Homo sapiens: one gene and its partner. The protein of the gene in region 2 purifies or fractionates together with the protein of the main gene of each other region. This does not show direct contact. Each region holds a gene or a part of one and is shown on either strand. Other genes may lie near its edges. The genes, in order: CDH2 and DDR2.

The links.
Region 1: the proteins of DDR2 (region 2) and CDH2 purify together in Homo sapiens (affinity purification with western blotting; 2 studies listed by BioGRID and IntAct, with this or other methods). This does not show direct contact.

The regions. Positions count from the first base shown.
Region 1 is NC_000018.10:27,981,231-27,992,422, forward strand, and holds part of CDH2 (cadherin-2 isoform 1 preproprotein), read right to left. Parts: intron 9,121-11,192; coding exon 8,867-9,120; intron 7,437-8,866; coding exon 7,294-7,436; intron 4,532-7,293; coding exon 4,298-4,531; intron 4,004-4,297; coding exon 3,770-4,003; intron 1,854-3,769; coding exon 1,714-1,853; intron 1-1,713. UniProt on the Homo sapiens protein: Calcium-dependent cell adhesion protein; preferentially mediates homotypic cell-cell adhesion by dimerization with a CDH2 chain from another cell. Cadherins may thus contribute to the sorting of heterogeneous cell types.
Region 2 is NC_000001.11:162,753,591-162,764,782, reverse strand, and holds part of DDR2 (discoidin domain-containing receptor 2 precursor), read right to left. Parts: intron 10,160-11,192; coding exon 9,928-10,159; intron 9,628-9,927; coding exon 9,480-9,627; intron 9,120-9,479; coding exon 9,014-9,119; intron 4,988-9,013; coding exon 4,804-4,987; intron 3,573-4,803; coding exon 3,329-3,572; intron 1-3,328. UniProt on the Homo sapiens protein: Tyrosine kinase involved in the regulation of tissues remodeling. It functions as a cell surface receptor for fibrillar collagen and regulates cell differentiation, remodeling of the extracellular matrix, cell migration and cell proliferation.

The DNA of each region.
Region 1 (11,192 bases), on a different chromosome or scaffold from region 2:
ACAAAAAATAAAATACTGGAAGTAGACGATTTATGAGAGAATGTGATCAATATGTTTGTTGATCTTGAAAATAGCCTAGGAAAGTGAAAGGATAGATTAATTAAAGAATTAAGCCAAACATGAATTTTAATATTCAGAGACATTTATAAGCAAAACACCCTAAGGTATATTTATAGAGCCACTTTAATTAGGCAGTATTCAAAACAGCTTTACACATGAGTCAAGTTTTCAACGTACTTTAAATATGCATCTCTTCTAAATGAGAGAGCTGGGGTATTGTAAACCAAGCATGGAACCTGGAATCAGAACATGAGGCCTTGAGTCCTGGCTCTGTGGGTTACAAACTCTGAAAGTAAATCATGCAACTTTTTTCAAATGTAAAATGGAAAACTCTAAGGGGCTGCCACAAAGTTTATACAATAATGGATGTAAATGTGCTTTGTAAAATGAAAAGTGATATATCATTTCCTCAAAGGAGTGAAGCAAGGGAAAAATATGTTCATGAAAATTTGCTTTTATTCAATTAGCAGGCTTATCAATAATATCTGCATATATACTTAAGAGAGTACATTTTAACTTACTGATACTGATGCAAAACCAAAGAATCCTGGGTTCTCTTTCAGACTGTTATCCCCGACATTTGCATTAGCCAGTAGAAATCAGATAACTATCAAATGTATCTAAGAATTACCTGTCATAGTGATTTCTCATGGATTACATTAATATCGCCCATATAATTTCAAGAGAAACTGTATCAGAATAGTTTAGCCTGTGAATTCAGAGAAACCTGAATGCAAACTCTGCATCTATTACTTCCTAAGTGCATGATTTTGTAGAATCTAACCATCCTTAACTTGGTTTTATACCACAAAAGTGGAGATGTTCACAGTACTAGTATCACAAGTTTCAAGGATTTAAGAGAGAGCAGCACCTAATGTACTTAACAGAATGCCTGACATGTAGTATAGAGCTTACAGATGTTTGCTATGATAACATTGAAAATGTTGCTTCAGAGCAGATGGAGATTTTTGTTTTCCATTTATGGTCATTCTCATCCTTGAAGAGGTATGCAATCCCATACGCACATAGTGATATAGGTTCACATTAGTTAATGGCCAGAAGGAGATTCTGACATCTATTGAATAACCACCTCAAGCCAGGAACTATGACAGACACTATAAATACAAAGATGAACTAGATGTTAACTCTAACTTCAAATATTTCACAAGAATGTAAGACTCTTAAGGATAGATATTTGTTAACTCTGCCCATGGAGGTATCTTCAGGGATTAAAATAGTGCCTGAAATATTGGATTTCCTTGGTAAATACTTGGGGAATAAATAGTCTTAGTGGTTTTTCTACCATACATATAATTATCCAGATCCCAAAGTAGAAGATGCTTTTAATATATTTTGGATATCCAGTGAAGAGAAACTGTAAAGTATATTTATCATTACACAGATATAACTAGAATTGGGTTTAAAGCCTTTGAAACAAGGTGTTTTTTTTTTTTTTACAAAATAAATACAATGACATTTGGTACTTTGAAAAAAAATTTGAGAAATATTCAACACACATAGGAAACAATTTACCAAATGACTGATAACAGGAGGGAAACCTGATACCATTTTCTTACTGATGTATTAACACTTCCCACTATTAAATTTATACGATCATAAAATTTATTTTTAAAGATTTAAAGCACTGCTCACCTGGTCTTCTTCTCCTCCACCTTCTTCATCATATTTTAAAATATTATCTCTTACATCATCTTCTGGATCAATTAAAAGTTGTTTGGCCTGGCGTTCTTTATCCCGGCGTTTCATCCATACCACAAACATCAGCACAAGGACTAGGTAGAAAAATAGTAAAAATACATAATATTGTCATTTTTAAAGCCTGGCCTATTTAGTCACAGTATTCAGTACTAATAATTTATACTTATATGAACTGAAGGCCTGAAATGCGTCTTTCACTCTACTATCTATTTCTGGCCTCACATTAAGAGAGACAAGACAAAGCAAGCTAAAGCACTGGGTTTAGAGTATGAAGGCCTGGGCTCCCATCCCTGGTGCCCTCTGCAAACTCACTTGAGAGGTGATCATCCTTGTTCTCAGTTTTACCATCCATATATGGGGACAGTAACTTTTTCTATCTTCCCTTTGGCTTGCTAGAGGATAGTTGCCCTTCATAGGGCCTTGTAAATTCTAGAGACACAAAACAGCAGTAAGGTGTTACTTGCTGTGTTATTTCGGTTGGTCAGTCATCATTACACTCCGAAATTCACAGAAGAAAACACTTATCCAGGAGGACAAAGCTTGCCCAGATGACCTGGGTAGTAAATTGGAACTAAGTCAGGAATCAGATCTTGAGGTTTTGACTCCCAGAGGCCGGTGCATGTTTCAGCTAAGAAAGCTAGGGGATTCCTTTGAACACTGAAATAATATTAGACTTTCATGTTTTACACTTTGCGCCAGGTCTAGAACCATAAATTTTCCAGTGAGTTGATGTTAAAATCAGCACCAATTCAGTTTCCTTCAAAATGTCAGTTACTTCTTCATTGCCATAATCCATCATGCCTAAGTCTTTCTTGATAACATTGGCATCTATGCCACATTTCAGTTGAAATGGAAACATATCCCTAGGTGCACATCTAGGAACAAATTCTATCTAAAATCTGGGGGTATCAGTTTACATCCTGAAGCAAAAGATTTAATGACTCCTATTGGAGCACATTTTTATTATTGGCCATAAAAGTAAATATCCTCCTTTTAAAGCCAGATAACATGATCTCATTTGCTATTGTTCCAGGGCTAAATCTAGCAAGTGGATTATTAGTATAGCATGCAGGTTTCAAATTATAGCCAAAGTAGTCTCCACACAGGAAGTAAAAAATGCTTAGACTTCTATAGTAATTGCTTAGAATAAAGGGACAGAATTCTAAATTACCAGAACACTTGTAAATGGAGAAAACATAAAAGAAATGGCCAACATTTTCAAGAAAGTGATTGGTGCATAGCATGATCGCACAATAAACTAAGTCCTGCTGCTATTCACAATAAAACACAGGGCCCAGGCAATTTATTCTTTTAACCTGCATGCTTAGAAGTGGTTCCTAAAGTACTTTCCAGTGGTTAATTTTTTGCATTCCATTGAACCAAAGATTGCAAAGTACCTTAAAAAGAAGCAATTCCTTAATCTACACTTACTCTAAAGACAGACAATCTACTGAGCTGTGTAATCATTTCTATTATCAAATGTCCTGTATGTGAAGTACAATCTCTCACTCTTCTACACAGCCCTTCAGAAACAAATACCTTGATCCTCGCATGACTGGAGCACGTTGCTGACTGTGCTTTATATGAAGGAAGGTGAAGGAAAGCAATATACTTATTTTCCTAAATCATCAACTACGTGCCATAAATTCATACTCAAATCATAAGAAAAGTGCTCAAACTTGGGATTGTTTAATGTTTTTCTATGAAAAGCGTTTACTACAGCTCCCTAAGCAATAAGCATGAGAAAGGGTAAGAGGGCAAGGAAGAGGCATGCTGAGGCAGCTTGTTGCAAACATCAAGTGCTTGAAACAATGCTCTGGGGTTTTTTCATTCTAAAGTGGACTTGGTCGACCCATATATGATTGGCGAGGAAATGCTGAAAGGTCAAAGGGTTGTTAGACTACTTTGCCAGGCAATAGCAACACATGACTTTGCTGAACATCCTAGAAGCCAAGAGAACTGAAATCTAAAAGACAATAAAAGTACTCACTAAGCAGGATGATGATGCAGAGCAGGATGGCAATGATGGCACCGGTGCCAAGCCCCGCACCCACAATCCTGTCCACATCTGTGCAGTCCCCGTTGGAGTCACACTGGCAAACCTTCACACGCAGGATGGAAATATTTGATTTGGGAGGATTACCCGAATCTGTGATTATGATGGGAACTTCATAGATACCAGCTTCAAGAAATTTTATCTTTAAATTAAGCTGAGCAAAATCACCTATATGAAAAAGGAAAAACATAGTTTGATAGGTAATACTTAAAGCGATAAAAAAACACATAGCATTGTTCAGGATGTATTTACTACCTAATAGTACACATAAAGCGGATTACAACTATGCTGCATTCTAAATACTTTTTTGGCCGTAAAGGCCTTTAATATCTTACTTAAACTTTAAGTAGCTTTTAAAATATGTATAATGAGAAGATTATGAAGCACATAAAATTAACTTTTCATGCCAGGCTTCAAAATCTCTCAACTGCACATATATTCAAATAATTAACCTGTTCTTACCATTAAGCCGAGTGATGGTCCAATTTCTCTTAATAGTCACTGGAGATAAAGGAAGATCAAAAGCAAATGGTCCAGCATTTGGATCAATGTCATAATCAAGTGCTGTAATATTAATTGAATTGGGGTCTGGAGTTTCGCAAGTCTCTGCCTCTTGAGGTAACACTTGAGGGGCATTGTCATTAATATCAAGTAAATAGATCTGCAGCGTTCCTGTTCCACTCATAGGAGGAATTCCTGAAAAGAGAGAAAAATCACAAATGATGCTGAACAGTTCTCTCCAATGAGCCTCAATTATGGTGAAATTCTCAAAGCTTCTAACCTTCTGGCCCTTTTAACTGTGTAACCTTGGAAAAACATAGTTGCTATGGCATCTGGGCAGACCGTTTCCAGAACAAAGCCCCTTCTTGCTTCCCTGCTAGAATGACCCTGAGCTGCCACTGCTGCTCTGCAGGAGCTGAGCAAGGTGACGAAGAATGCCCCTGTGATGGAATCCCGTACCCTCCCTGCCCCTCCTGCCCATTATTCAGGGCTTGCGTAGACCATGCTCCTCCAGGCACTGTGAGGAGTGTTGGAGATGCAAACACAGGGCTCGTGATCCTGTTGACACTATTCTTTTTATGGAGAACCAAGACATATGCATGAAAGAACATAAGAATGCTTTTAACGCTCTAACACAGCTTTGACTTAACGCAACAGTCTACAGACAAGTGATACAGAACCACAGACCTCAACTCAGGAAGGAACATCATGCAGAAGAGAAATGATATTTACTAACCAACCAACTACCTGCTTGAGATCATATTAGGCTGCTCTATGTACACTCTTTGATTGTAATCCTATGACACAGGTTTACACAGATGAACCTGAGTCTGTAAACTGCTCATGGCCACACACTCTTGTAAGTGGTGGAGTTGCTACTAAATATTGGTCGGCCTGACCTCAAACCCATTCTCATTCCACTATAATAAAATGCTGTCTCCACCACTTTGTGTGATAATTTAATCTGGTGATTTGCTTCTGCTACATTGTAAATATTCACACACACACAAATATATAATATGTTTATGAATATTTTATAAATAATGCTGTACACTGAAGACCAGAGACTTAAGCGACCTGCCAAAGGTCATGCAACTAGGAAGGTGCACATACATACACAATCCTGGGGAGGGAATAAGGAGGAATGTTTACCAACTTCTATGAGGAATATGATGGTTCTAAGAGCAGGGAGAGTTGAACTGGAAGGGTATAGTGGCTGTTACAATATTCCAACACCACCATGACCACTATGATACTCAACAGTTTGAGGGACTTCGAAATTTACTATCACATTTAATATTACTATACTTTTATAACAACTATATAGAATATGTAGGTAGTGAAACAATTTATCAATAATGAAACTAAGGCATACAGAGTATAAGAGCTTGACTAATCATTAACGAACAGAGCTGGGGCTCCAAGTCTAGCCTTGTGGCTTAAAGGAAAGTGCAATTGCAAAGCATCACAGCTACATACATTATAACAGGTCACTTCTCTCTCTTATCAAAAGCCCTTTCAATTAGAAAACAATCCTTCCTGGTGAATGAGAAATCTGGTTGTAACTCACAACCAATATACATACATACATACATACATATAATTTTATGGCTCTTTAGATCTTAACATAATGATTCAAGATGCATTACTTTCAGTACCACTGTAGAAGAAAGCCACGGTTTATGGCAAAAAAGCATAAAACAGGTACTAATGACATGCTTTGATGTACAATGGCAAAAGCTATTCCTACAAAGTTCCAACACTAAATATTTAAACAAGAGGTCCCATATTAAAAAGGATAAGAAATATTTCTTTGGTTGGTCACTACATAGATTTTCTACAGATAGTAATCTCATTAAATCTTAGTATACAGATTTAGAAAGGTTCACTGACATTATTCTTAAAGTATTGATATGTCTTATTTTAGTAATGCAAAATATTTTACAATTTGAAAATTGCAAACACCAACTTCAACCACCAAATTGAAGCCTGCTATTTTTTATTAAGTACCAACATTCATATTCATAGTTTAATACTGAAAATATTTTAAAATATAGTTGTGGTTCAGTTTTGAAACTATTAATACGCAATAGGAATACTTAGTTGAGTGGTTAGTTCGTGTCAGCCACTGTTTCAAATGCTTCATATATATGTAGAAGTCATTACATTTTAGTTAAAACACTGAGTTAGGTGCTGATACGTATCTATTTAACAAAAAAAGGAAACAGATATATTTAAAACCTCATGGCAATCCCACAGATTCAAAGTGGGAAAGCCGGAGTCTGCACCTGGGGGTCCTGTAGAACTCCAGAGCTTGAAGTCTGAAACACACATCGTACTGAGAGCTAACGAAGCAAAATAAGCCCCTCATCAGGTTTACAAAAGTCCCCTTTATATTACATATCTGAAAAAAGTCCTTATCTATTAATCTTAACCAATGAGAAACCAGCAGAGACTCAGAAAGGAAAAAAAGGTGCTACATATGTATTCTAAAACCCATACCCTGAAGCTCACTACTCACTTATCTCAATTTATGCACAAAATTAAGTTTCCTAGCCCATGGCAGACAGAGGCAGAGAATTATAAAAAGGAAGACTGATAGAGATGCACATATGAAAGGCAACAGAGTGACTAGAAGACATATAAAAAGAGCCACTGAAAAAACCCAGTGTCTAGGGCCACTGAGGATGGACTTAAGGCATCAACATGTGACAGGACAATAAGATAACAAAGGTATGTCTACATGAACGATGGATGGACATCGAGAACAGTCATTGCAAAGACAGTGAAGGATGTTCCAGAACACCTGTCTGAAATGATAAATAAAAGCTGGACCTCGGAATTATAAAAGTCAGTTTTCCAGGCAATTGAGTTTTGTAGAAAACTTTAATTCCTGAGCATGCATGATGAGGATCTACTGTCTTTCATCAACATACAAGAAAAAACAGCGAACATACCATTGTCAGAAGCAAGGAAAGTAGCATTATATATATTGTTTTTCACATTTGGTGATTCTCGGTCCAAAACAGCAATTGTAGTTATTTGTCCATTCACAGGATCTATTTTTAGCCAATTGGCAGGATCAGATAATTTAGTGTATCTACAAAATGAAAGTGAAGTTTAATTTCTTTTTATGAAACTTTAAAAAAACATATTTTACAGGTTTAGTTCCAAATGCAACTGGCTCATTAACTTGCATTTCTGTAGATGATGGCTGGACATACAGCTTTAACAGGAAAAAGTATTTTTGTGACAGTGGTATTGGGAGGCACATAAAGGTTGTGTTTGGTCAGGCATGTAGGAAACATTCTACAGGTGTCTGAGGGACAAGACTAGGTGCACAGTCTCCCTAATGTGGGCTAAAGCAGATTGGAAAGTTATCATTTTAGGTTCTTGTCCACTTCAACAGATATCAATGGTTCAGGTAAAATAGCTTGAATATAGTTTCTAGATAAGCAGTAGTCTCAATGTACAGGAGTTAAGAGAAATTATAATAGAAATTGAATACTGCATCACAGAACACTCCTAAAACATTTTAACACTTTATCATGGCCAACATGAAGCCACACTGGAGAGACCACCATAATCCCATTCCTACTTGAATCTTTCACACTGGGCCAAGCCTCAGATCTATACCTTTGCAAAGAAAGTCCTACAGTCTTGAGTCTGAATTGGCAGATTTATCAGCTTAAATTCCTTTTTAAAATTTGGAGTGGGGATTAACTTTTAAAGATTAGATAACCAGTTGGATTGGAAAAGGTATGCTATGTTTGGAAAGGTACAAGTTGTAGGATTTCAATACATCTATTAACTGGCTATTTATTAATAGTTATCTTGATTTCAGTGAATAGAGAAATGGAGAACATTTAACATTTAATAAAAGATAACAATAGAAAGTTATCTTTTAGCAGCAGTTCTGTAAGAAGTTTAATGAAATATAAGTTCATTTTAAAAATGATCATCACCAGCTTTGGAGAACAGTCGCATGGGGTGTGCTCTGGCAACCATCCACTCCCTCATCAGAAAGGATAAATTACATTTTGCTGAGTTTGGAAATCTTTACAGATAGGTTTCATAAGTCCAATAACTACTGTACAGGTAAGGAATGAAAATAATTAACTCTTAGATCCTGGTTTTGGCATAAGCTTTCTTTCCTTCATGATGCATGGAGGAGAGATAAATGTTATAAGCCTCTGAAAGTTCCCTGCGGAACCTTTTTGTGATGTTTGGCATAAAGGCACAGGCTAAATAATTTTAAAGTATTTTTTAAGTAAAAATGGCAGATACAGAGAAACAAGAACAGCTTTTTCTTCAAATAGTAAATCCATTTTAATATGGATACAGATATCTATTTATATCTAATATAGTCATTGACTTACTGAGAAGAAAATTCAAAGAATTTTAAATTATCTTTTAATAAGTAGTTTTGATTGCAATGAAAATTTCTACTCAAATAGTGAATTAGATAAATTTTATGCACAGCATAGAACATAAGTAAGCTACAAAAACACTACAAACAGCATTTCATACCTAATATTTTGCTGCATATATCGATCTGGGTCCTGAGCAGTGAATGTTGTCAACATGGTACCGGCATGAAGCCCTTCTTCTTGGCGAATGATCTTAGGATTGGGGGCAAAATAAGGGTTTTCATTTACGTCAATAACTGTAACAGACACGGTTGCAGTTGACTGAGGGGGGTGCTGAATTCCCTTGGCTAATGGCACTTGATTTTCTGCAGCAACAGTAAGGACAAACATCCTATTTGTTTCAAAGTCGATTGGCTGGAAAATAAAAGGGAAGCCATATTTTTGCAGGAAATAAGAATGCTTGCATTCTGTAGTTTATTCCTCTATCAACTCCATTTCCAAAAAATTAATTTCTTCATTCACTACATAACAAGGTTCCTCTCAAGTTTCTGGAAAACATGCATTAGCATGGTCACTTATCAAAATATTTATCCCAATTTAACCTAATTATAAATCTTGAGTACTTAAAAGATTTATGTTCACAAAACAGTGCACATGATTACTGCACAGATTTATTTATTTAGGTACATCTAAAAACTTGATTATTCTTAAGAATAGCATTGTTGACTAAAAATACTAAATAATATAAAGTCAAGTGAGAACATGATGGTCTAAATGTATACTCTCAAACATTAGTACAAAGATCACTCCTCACCCAGGAAAGCTTTCACCAGTCTATGATGAATTGAAGAAAACAAACCAAAAATCAGAAAATGTAATTTTTAAATACAGCTAAACTTATTTGATTTAAAAGTACCTTTCATAATTTGAAGTACACATTTTGCAGTACAAACATGTATACATAATCGCACACACACCTTTTAAAAATAATACTGTTGGTAGGTGGAAGATATTTTTCTTTTCCTCTTAGCAAACTAAAACTCTGCTGTCTTCTGGAATATTTCTGGATATTTTATTGGTCTGTAAAACCCCCAAATTTAAGAAAAACACTCTAGATAAATGCAATGCACAAATAACCCTTCATGTAAATACTAACTTCCAAAGTTCACTGAATCTTGCTGTCACTAGAAATATTACCAGGAGTCAAATGACTAGACTGGACATTCACTCTTAATTTTCCTTGTTCACCTGCGAATGGATGTGCAAATAAGCATTACTGTGCAGTAATAACAGGAAAAACAAGAGCATTAAGATCTCTTAGGCTCATAATTGGTAGCCTAAGAATGATCGAGAGGTGACGCTCATAAGAAAGCTTCATTATCAGCAGAAACTGCACCAGTTTCGTACCCTAGACCACCTTTTAAAAATCTTCAAACACATCTTTTTTTCTCTCTAAATCCCCAATTCAACATTCCTTTCTCTAGTATTTTAAGCAAGACAGAAAAAAAGCCAGAAAGTTAAGACTGCAATATTTAGAGTGATTTCACTAGCCACACGAAACCTTCCCCTGATGTAACATTTATGCTAAGGGGTATATGCACAGTTCAAAGTCCTTTAATGTGTATGAAGCTCATTTATCTCTCAGAACACTATGACTAACATACTGTTATCAGCCCCTTTCTGCATAAGAAACCTAGAATTTACAGTGGTTAAATAGTTGGCCATGATCACACAGATATCAGGAGCAGAGCTGGGACTCTAACACAGACAGCAGACTCAAGTTGGTGCTTTTGATCACTATGTTCCTTCTGAGAGTTTCCATTCCCATTCTATTCTACTCCCGCATCTGCATAATTATTGGCAACTGGCACTTTAGCACATCTTTCTATGTAAGGTCAATATTTAGGTTCACTTACAAATCAAGAGTGCTTAAGTGGGAGGCAAAGAAGTAAATCTCTTTACTGGGTGGCTAAAAGGAAGGGATGTTCACTTTAACAGGCTTTTCCATTATAGCTACGCATTTATTATTCTTGAAGAACATCCCCTTGGCTTCTAGCATGCAACTGTTTTGTTTGGTTCCTTTTTGACCATAAGATCAGAAGAATACATTTCTTAACGTCTCGGAAATAGCATTTAAAAACAGCCATGCAAATGCAAGAGCTTTCTAAAATGCAGGCTTTCTTCTTGCCTACTCATTACATTTTTCTTCTATGGCTTTTCTGGTTTGTTCACTATCTGCCAATATTCTAATAGCTGTAGACATGAAAATAGCAGCTGTGAGGCATCATTCTTAATAGCTATCAATGGTGATCAAAATTTCAGAATGTGATATATCATGAATATATCAACTACACTAACAGTTAATGTTGTTCAGGCCAGTCCTATCCTCAGATTGGTAAAAACTGTCCAAACTGATTCAAAAACAATCATCAAAACTCTCACTCAAAACTCTCATTCAAAAACTCTCACAAAACTCTCATCATAAA
Region 2 (11,192 bases):
CAATCTCGACCCACTGCAAGCTCTGCCTCCAGGGCTCAGGTGATCCTCCCACCTCAGCCTCCCAAGTAGCTGGGACTGCAAGCACGTGCCACCACACCCAGCTAATTTTTGTGTTTTTTATAGAGACAGGATTTCGCCATGTTGCCTAGGCTAGTCTCAAACTCTTGAATACAAGCAATCCTCCTGCCTTGGCCTCCCAAAGTGTGGTTTATCTTTAAATTAGTCTCTTCCTCTCTTTTATGTTATTTTACACCTGGACTTTTCTTCCAGGCCCAGTACAAGTCTCATTCCTTTGATGCTGTCTATGACAAACCCACGCTAGTGCCTCTCTCCTCCTGACCATTTATTGTTCATATTGCTTTGGACATTTCTTTTTTTTTTTTTTTTTTTAAAGCATTCTGTATCTTTCATCTTCCCATTTAAATTTAATGGTATGAACAATGTTCTAAACACCTTTTAACTTTTCAAGATTTGGCACAGTTTCTGGCTGTAGTAAGTTAAATCACTATTTGCTGCAGTTACTGTTCAATCAAAAGTAGTGTTTAAAGTTTAAAAGGAATCCCTAAAGGTTGAAACAAATGGAATACAATGAACCTAACTGTATATCACATTGGTGACATAACTACATACAGAAAAGAATTATCCCACTGTTACCCTAACTGTATACCACACTGGTGATATAACTATATACAGAAAAGAATTATCCCACTGTTACCCAACTGACCTTAGAACATAGTGCTTTGACTGCACATTCTTAGTAGGATATATTCTCAGGACAAAGAAAAGAGAATTGCTAAGAAATCTTAATGTTCAATAGTTACGTTGCTAGTAATAATATTGGTATTGCTTTTTGAATAATAGGATGAAGAAAATGCTGTTAACATTGTTAGGAAACATGATATTTAGCATAAATAATAGAGATGAACGTATAAAATCAACTTTAAATAAAAACCTTATCTTTAATTTGAATTGGAAGTAACAATGTAAACTCACAATCTTTCTTTTTAAATATACATATTTCATTGCTTTCTTCCACCGAAAAATCCAAGAAACAATGACAACCTATTAGTAATGAGCATCCCTACTACCCAGTTTGTGTTTTCTAAATACCATTTCCTACTAAAAGGAATCAAGATTTCTTGAAATGGTTGATTCCACGTCGGGTGCTGTACATGTTCAAAATGAGCTTGAAATACCTTGTTCTTTCGGAAAACAAGAAAGTTATCAAAGGCTTCTAGGGTCAGATCAAAAGAGCAAAGAGCCCCCTTAAAAATGCAAACTCTAGGCTGGGTGCAGTGGCTCACATCTGTAATCCCAGCACTTTGGGAGGCCTAGGCGGCTGGATCGCCTGAGGTTGGGAGTTCGAGACCAGCCTGGCCAGCATGGTGAAACCCCGTCTTTACTAAAAATGCAAAAAAAAAAAAAAAAAAAAAAAAAAAAAAAAAAGCCGGGCGTGGTAGCAGGCACCTGTAATCCCAGCTATTTGGGAAGCTGAGGCAGGAGAATCACTTGAACCTGGGAGGTGGAGGTTGCAATGACTCAAGATAGTACTCCAGCCTGGGCAACAGAGCAAGATACCGTCTCAAAAAAAAAAAAATGCAAACTCTAGTCAAAGACAGCACAACTTGAGTATTAAAAAGAATAATGGCCAGACACGGTGGCTCATGCCTGTAATCCCAGCACTTTGGGAGGCCAAGGCAGGCGGATCACTTGAGGTCAGGAGTTCGAGACCAGCCTGGCCAACATGGCGAAACCCTATCTCTACTAAACATAGAAAAACTAGCCAGGCGCAGTGGCAGGCACCTGTAATCCCAGCTACTTGGGAGGCTGAGGCAGAAGAATCACTCGATCCCGGGAGGCGGGGGTTGCAGTGAGCCAAGATCACACCACTGCATTCCAGCCTGGGTGACAGAGCGAGACTCTGTCTAAAAATAAACATACTACTACTAATAATAATAACTGCAATCGATTAAGCATTAAATTGATAAAAAGCAATGAGTTTATAATGATACCAAAAAAATAAGGGTAAAAACCAAAATTAATTAGACATTATTGAGGGTTGCTACGGTATCAAGTCATTACTCTGAAAATTAACAATTAAAGGGGAAGATAAGTCACGTATGCTGCTCTTTCAATGTGATTTCTGAGTAAACTGGTGCATGATGAAGAATAGTTACTCTATTCGGAAGAAATTCAGCTAAGAAATGCAGAAAAAATAAAAGAATTAGAAAATCGTCATTTAGCAACCCTAGTGAAATAAATAATTCAGACAGTGGTTATTGATGGAGGATAAAACTTAGGGAAAAAGTTCATGAGGAACCAGAAATCAATCTTAGTATCACAAAAAGTGAGAGGATCTAGCATTACATCCCCATGATGAAGTTCAGCATAAAATATACAGCATTACTGAGATATATAGAATGCTTATAAAGAATTCTTGACAAAAATAAATATTGAACTGGAATCAAATTAACCTGTAGATGTAAGCACCAGTCATTAGGAATGACAGAGAACAGAAGCTCAAGTAAAATGACACCACAGAAAGCCATCAGCCAAGCCAGAATCCATTTAAAAAGAAATAAAAATGGAAGGAATTTTTTAGATTAAAAGAGACACAGAGCAAATAGAATAAAGAAACTCACCAACAGATCCTTATTTTGATCCTTATTTGATAAAGTCAACTGAATTAAGACATTGATGGACAGTTAGTCATACTTGAATATGGACAGGATATTGGGTGGTATTAAGAAATTATTTAATAATAAAGGTTGTTAGATGTTATCATGGCATTATACCTATGAAAATGATGCTATTTTCTTAGATGCAGTCCAATTATTTGCTAATGAAATCAAGTAGTATCTCATATTTGCTTTAAAATGCTACAGCCAAAAGGAAGGAATGGGTGAAACAAATATGGCAAAATATCAATGATTAGTAAAGCTGAGTGATGAGTGGTTTATTGTTCTCTTTACTTTTGTGTATATTTAGAAATTTTCATTTAAATATCTCAGTAATGCTTAGGTGTGCTTTTCCTTAACAGCGCACTCGTTAACTACCTTAAATTATATAAAATTTTTAACACACTGTACTCTCATTTAAAAACATTCTTTCTAAGAAGAGTTACGTGCATATTTTGTTCACTTCCATTCTCATCCCATCCCCTCCACAGTTAAAACTAGTCACACAAAGGATTCACCGTATCCGTCAATGAGAAGCTGCCTGTACAATCCCACTCCTCTCAGAGACCTGCTAATGAGAAGTTCTGGGCATGTGCATTCCTCCTTCATCACCTTGCTCCCACTTCCCAAAGAGGACCTGAGCTCCCTACCTGATTGGAAGGTGATCTCACTGAACATCATCCAGGTATCTGCAAAATGGTATTGACACTTGATGGCACTGGCCATTCGGTGGTGGAGAGGCACCGTGACAAACCGAGCACTGGGGTTGACGTCATCCAGGACAAGGGGGAAGGAAATGGCATTAGGTTCCCACTCACTGGCTTCAGAGCGGAAGTAGCACTGTACCTCCTTAAAGATCTTCACACCTTTAGCAAACATGTTGTTGCAGTGGACCTGGTAGAGAAAGAGGCATGTGAGTGATAGGTTGGCCCTGCTAAGGTGCATGGAGACACAGTGCCAGCCAACTCAGTAGTTGCCGTCTACCCTGATTCGAGCTATTCTGAACTGAGGTAAGAGGAAGACTGCCATCCTGCTTCCTCCTAGGTACATTTCAGAGCCAGTCTTCTTCTTTTCACAGGGCTAGGTGAGAAACCCAAAATAGTGTACAATCTAAAACAATTTCATTTTTTTTTTTAGAAATCTCATTTCTAAATGAGAATACACATATTCTCACATATGTGTGTATGTATCTATGTGTATAGATACACACACGAATCAGGGTAGACGGCAACTGCGGCTGAGAGGATTATAGACTCGAGAGAGTTCAAGGCAAGGAAGGGCTGAGAAGATGCTGGTGCAGTCCTCATTTAACAGATGAGAAAACTGCAGTCCAGCAACATGAAGTGAGGTGGCCAAGGGCAGACAGTGCATACAGGTAACCAGGGTTGCAGCCCAGGTTTTATAAGGCCTGACCAACTATCACTGCCACTGTGAGGTTCCTAGAAGGAAAAATTCAGAAGACTGCAGAACACCAACTACATATATATATCTAGTTGTATATGTATATACATATATCTAGTTGTATATGTATATACATATATCTAGTTGTATATGTATATACATATATCTAGTTGTATATGTATATACATATATATAGTTGTATATGTATATACATATATAGTTGTATATGTATATATATAGTTGTATATGTATATATGGTTATATATATGTAGTTGTGTATATATATATATCATTGTGTATATATATATAGTTGTGTGTGTATACACACACACACACACACACACAACTGTGCTGGTAAAAAGATAATCTTTGACCCTAAAAATTTATTTTTTTCACCTGATATTAAAAGAAATTAGAGCATTTTTATGCGTCTTAAAAATCTGTGGGCCCTGGACACTGTGTTATTGGCTTAATGGATATGTCACCTTTAGTGTCAAAACAACAAAAAAAAGAGAGCTCACTGACCTATTCTAACTCCCTTACACACAAATGGAGAATCACGCCCTTAGAGATGAAGTGACTTGTGAAATGCATTTAGCTAGTTAGTAACAGAATATGTCATTGAACTGGCATCAGCCTAGACTTTTTTCTAGCATGCCTTTTCTCTACCACACTATGATTTGTGCCTCCTTAAAGAAGTTCCACCACACCCGACCCCACTGACCTTCATGGTAGTGAAATTCCTGATGCGGTCAAATTCAAACATGATCTCAATGTAGCCATTGGTGGCACTCTCGTTCCGCCAGCCCACATAGTCATAGCCGGGCCACACGTGGTATTCATGGGTCTGGGTGAAATCGTCCAGGCCAGACACACCATCGGTCAATTGGCCTAGCCCTTCTGTCATGCTGCTCAGGCCAGGAGAAGAGGAGGAAAAGGAGAGAGAAATCTGAGTTAACCACACATTCGTGGAAGAGCTTTTACCCGGCATCTTCACTCCAGATTTTGTATGAGCTTATTATCTTGGAATTGAAGGATTGTAAATAATCAGATTTGCATTATAGTATTGACTCGTTTATCTTGCATCAATGGAGAACTAAGAATTTCATATTAGTAATTTTTATAAAATATTTGATGCTTACTCCTTTAGTAGTAAAACTTTTAAACAATGTCTTATTTAATATGAAAAGCTTTCTATAATTTATTGCACCTTGCCTATTCTTATATACTGAATATGTCTTCACATAATGACTTAATATTATCAAATGCATTTGATGAACTAATTCATAGAGTAAATGAGGAAATGGATAAATGCATAGAATGAATGCTACCATACATAGTAGCACTTGCCCCACTATCATATAAATGTTTCCAGAGCTTGGTGCTGACTCTCCTTTAACTACATATTGTCATTGTTCAGTGAATCAATTTCAGAGAATCCAGTCACACTCTCTTCTATTCCACATATCCAACAACCCAGTTTGATATTAAACTAAGGGGGAAAATACAAGCTCTAAATTTAAATAATAATTTCTATTTAATTCTAATTAAATTTGTAGGATACTAGACCCAGGAAGTAAGATGCAAGGATTTCATGAGAATCCCAGGTATTGGATTTAGTTTTGTGTTCTAGCTTAGCAGGCTTTTTTGACTTCTGAGTAAGAGGCTCTGTTTTAAAGGCTGAGTTTTCCAGAAGCCTGACTGCTGGATGGAATATAACTGCATGTATGCTTATTTGACTACTTAGAGAACACGAAGAGGCTCCTTCCTTCTTTTTATGGAGGGACAGAGCAAAAACCATCATGTGGAACTTCTCTTTCCTCAAGCTCTGCATCTCAAGCTCTGGCAGATATGACACAAATTTCCCAAATGACGAGATTGGGATACTCACCCTCAAGCAATAATTGGTGTGACCCTTGAGGTTTAGAGCTAGATCAATAATATGTAAAATTTGTGAATCGCAAAAAATAAAAAAATACTAAGGGTGATTATGCCAGCCTTTTAAAATATATTTAATCATTGAAAATGTTTGGTAAATTATAAAATTTGACTGGCCTTATCCACAGTGACCAGAGCCTGGATCTCCCTTCCAAGGTTTTGCCATCTTTTTCTTCTCTCTACAGATCAGAAAGCTAGGAGAACGTAAGTTTACTTGCAATAAATATATTTCCCATTATCCTCAGAAAAATAAATCCCAGGAAAGTTTTATGAAAAGCAACAGAAATTAAAAGGAATGCCTGTTCAGTTCCCCCTTGGTCAAAATTAAATCAAGTGAAGAAGGGATAAGAAAATAAATGTTCAATATTTATATACTTTAGAGTTATTAAAATCACCAGTAAGCATATATTATTCTTGAAATTGTTTTAAATTTAAAAAGTAACTTTTGCTAATATGACTATTTCCTGAGACTCTGATGTCATCTCTCAGTGGCTGAGAGGATCTCTTCACTCAGCCACCTCCACCAGATATTTCATTACTTCAATTATTAAATGAAAGCCAATGATGTCTACATTTTTGTAATTTTTTTTATCTTTCCCCTGGAGTTAAGAGCCATAATTCCGGCTACCTTCCTTATTTCTCTACTGAATGTCTTCTCAGTCTCACAGACCTACACTCCAAACTAAATCCATCATCATCCCCTACTGAACTAAGTCTTTCTCCTTGGTTTCCCTTTTCCATAAATTATACTTCTCTTCATAGTAATGGAAAATGCTTGGCGCAAGGTAAGCACTCAAAATATATTTGTCGAATAAATAAATGTCATCCCCATTGTTTCAGTCACTTAGACTGTCAAACTTCATCTGACCCTTTTTCTCACCCTACTGTTTTGCCTCATACATCCAATCAGATTTCAAACATCCTAAATGAATATCTTTTCCTCATTCCCCACAGTCACGGTTATGGCCTTGGTCATTAATTCTTTTTACTTGGCAGAACTAAGAGTTTTAAAATGTTCCTCATAGCCTCCTCATTCCATTCCAATCTAACCTTTGCATGCTGCTTGATTAATCTGTCTAAAGCACAGCTCCAATCATGTCCTTCCTCAGCTTTAAAAATCTTCAATGACTCATTACATTAATGATAATGTTTATGAAGAATAAGAACAGCAATTTCTCCTCTTCCTCCTCCTCCACTTCTTGCTCCTTTTGGCTTTGACTTCAGGTTCCTTCAAAATATGGCATAATCTGCTTTGTTTTGCTTCTCCTGCACTACTTTGCCACATAAATATGGCCCGTGGTTAAATAAACTGTTGATTTCTCCCAGACAGTCCCCTAAACTTTATAACCATGATTCTTTTTTCCTCATGCTATTATTCCCTCTGCCTAAAATTCCATTTCAAGATTCTGCACCTGTGAAAGTACTACCCATTCTTTGGGACCCAGTTCAGATTTCATCTGTTCTACCATATCTTTACTGGTCCTTCAGTCAGAAAAATGATAATCAGATAACAACTTATATGTGCATAGCAATTTATCTTACGAAATGCTTTTCACACACATTTTAATCCCTTAAGCCTTGTAGCAAACAGAAGTAACTTTTATTATATGAAATCCAGATGTTTTCATCCCCATTTTTGTGCTTTCCTACTATAGTTTACTTTTTCCTTTGAACCCCAGAGCAGTCATAGGCTATCTCTTGCTCATATACTTGAATCATAGTAACTTATATTCTGTTTTAGCCCCTACTCCAAATTGTGAGCACTTTAAAGGTAGGATCAATGACTCCATTACCTTTGAATACCTAACATGCCTGGCCAAATTCCTTGTATATAGTAACAGTTGATTAACAAAGGCTTATTAAATTAAACTGAATTCGGTTGATCTCTGATTTCCTCTGTGCCTTGAATACATGCCTGTTGGGGTGTGACTGAGCGAAATTATGCCAAGACCGTTTAAGCAAAAAGGAAAGAACAGTGATTAAGAAGATGGAAAGGAAGTGACTAGGAGTAGAAGAGTGGATGAATCAGGTCTTCACCCAGGGGATGGCAGCTAGAGGGCAATAGTTCATTCTCCACACCTAAGCCAGTAGAAGGCTGTAATTCCACACTCCCTTCCTGAGACTCACTAGTATCTCCTTCTCTCGAGCCCTGTCAACCTCCATCATCTGGTCTGGTCTTCACGATGGACTGAATTCTCTCCCAGGCTCACTTTGCAGATGCAGACCAAGCTTAGAGAGAAAAGTGTTAGTGTGGGCTAGAAGAATGGCAAGGCTTAAAGGCTTGAAGTGAAACAGTATAGGTGGGAGCATCCTGTACCCAACCCTAAGTTCCTACTATATCTGGTCACACTTCTTTGCCATGGCACTCCTTTGATCCACTTCAGGCTTATCCATTGTTCCATTCTGTTCTTCTCAACTCCAGCTTCTACTATAGCCAGGTCAGTCTTGCCTTCAGCCCTGCTTCCTTTCTTCTGCTACCTTCTACCTACCTTCCTCTGCTACAATTCTCATCTTAACCTAGAACTTTCCTTGTCTATTGTAAGTCTTACTAGTCCCCTTTTTACAAATTTCAAAGCATTTATATGTATAAGGTCTATTCTTTCTGACTTCTTGACTTGCCCAGAGTATTATACTTATTACTTCAATTCTCTGGCCCTTTGTTTCCATAAGTAGGTCAATATTTGTGTCAGACTACATGTCCTGTTTTGAGGGTCAAAAATATGGCTATTATACTTAGAGCCATATCACAAACTTTAGCCATTACTTTGTGTAATTGATTGTTTTCTGGGTAATTAACTTGTCTTCCCAAACCGGGCTTTAAGTTCCCTGGAAATAAAGGTCATGTGTATTCCTTCATCTAAATTATTTCCAAATGCCTTGTACAAGAACTAAATAAATACTGATTGGTTGATTGATTATTGATCCCAAGACATGATAAAATATTATTCTTTCTTAGTGGCCAATTTCCCATTCTAATAAAGTTTCCCAGGATTTACCTGTATCCAACAGCTCCATCATAGACAGAATCATTCAGATAAATGATGGAACCTCCAGGGAGTACAAACTGCTGCCCAGCTGGAGCATTGTAAGACACCAAGCCATCTGCAAAGGAAACACAGCCAAGTGAGTGCCTACTGCTCAGGCCCATTACCTCAGGGAACTATGTGAGTTTCAAGGGTATAAGCTTGCACAGCGTGTCCAGCAGGACTCCATCTGGACACCGAGGGAAGACTTTGGAGGAGTGCCCCTCCATGGCAGTCAACGTAATGACTCTGAATGCATGACTCAGTGTGGGGCCCTAAGCCCTGGGTTAATGAGCAATGCTTCTGTCTCTATTCTTCCCAAGAGGGCATCACCATTCCAGGAGTAACTGATCCCATCCCTTTCTGATTTGATTGCCTTCATTTCCCAGAAGTTGGAGTTTTTAATAAAGTCTATAGGCTTCCTGGGCTAGTGACCTACCTAGCCAGACACAGCCGTAAAGCTCCACTCTCATACACACATTCATGGAGTGGTCGGTGACTGGAATGAACCGGACAAATCTGGCTACAATGGGCGGCTCCAAGTCCTTTAGGAAAATGTCATAGGGGTTACTATTTCCATCCAGCACCTGAGGAGAGAGAAGAGAATGAGTGAAGAGGTGGTATTAAATCATGCTCACTTTTCTTCACCCCACCACGTTTTTGATGGACTCTCTCTTCTTAATTCGAGGAGCAGAATGCATCTACTCTGCTTTCCCCACAGCCTTGATATTCCTTCCCTGCCTCCCTCACCCTGGGTCACACATTTACAAGGGCATGCCTGGTCTGTGGACACACATATCCACACAGAAAACCTGTACCCTTCTTCTCCTAGCCTAAGTCAAAATATGGTCTTGGACATCCAGGATCTGGATGTCTCTTCTTCCTACCTGTTTCCCATGACGGTTCCGCCAAGAGATCCAGCGAGTGCCATCCCGACTGTAATTGATCTTGTACATGGGGGCAAACTCGATGCCATGACCTCCTGCATGGCGCCCCTGGGTCCCCACCAGAGTGATAAAATGGAGGGTGTGCAAGTCAATCTGCAGAAACTCCTTCAGGTCATCAGGTTCCACTGGAATCTCAGGGCACCAGGCTCCATCCCCTTCTTCTGAGTCCAGCCTTGAGAGGTGAGGGTTGGGGAGAGAGGGAGCAACCATGAAACCACAGAGCTGTTTACTGGTTCACAGGCAAGCAGCTGCCCTGTACTGAGGGGAGAGAGCAGGCTGTCCTTATAAACATTTTGGGTTCTTGCCACAGTTTTCACTGCCACCACAGTACCCATTTGTGGTCAGATCCCTTTCCCTGGAGTACCATGAGACCCTGAAAGACAGTGAGCTGAGGCCTTCAGATCACACATAGCCTTCACTTCCCATCCTGATTTAGAAGCATAAAGAGAAATAAAACTCTTCCTACTCTCTGTTCCCGCATGAGTCATTTCATATTTCCCTTCCCTCTTTCAAACTCAGCCTAACAAAGCTAGCCACCCTTTGCTTGGACATCAAGTTATGGCAATAGGGAGGAGGGATAGTAGGGTCTCCAGTGTGGGTTATGCAATGCAGCAGGATGGGCATTGCAGACCAGCAAGGAGCCATAGAAACACATGGGGAGGATGAGGGGGAAGAGCATGTCAAGGAAGTAGTAAATAATCTGGTTTCATTTTATTACCTTCAGGCTGAGCTACCACTGAGCAAAATTGTGAAATTATTATAAAGTTTACTTTGAGAACTCCCTACCACTTTTCCTCTCCCTTGGATTGCTCCCTTTTCTCACAGATATTACCCATTCATTTGTTGCTCCCTTCCAATTCCACCTACCATCACTCTAGTCTTTCATACACTAAGAAATTAAGGGGAAAGGTTCATCAGGATTCATTTTCTTATGGGTAATTCCATTTTAATAAAATCAATACTTCACAAAATAATAAGATTCCAGGTAGAGTATTGGGTCCAACCAGTAGAGCAGTAGGGAGTTTATTGATGTACAAGACCCCTGAAATCAATCGCCCCAGGAAACTGCCACACTCTGTCTGTTGGCAAGGATGGCCCTTCTGTGTAAGAGATCCTTGAGAGAGGTGGAGAACTTGTTGGAGGCCTCAGTGTCTTGATGCTTGGCAGTGAGTGATGCTTTGCAGTGAGTGATGTTTCATAGACCC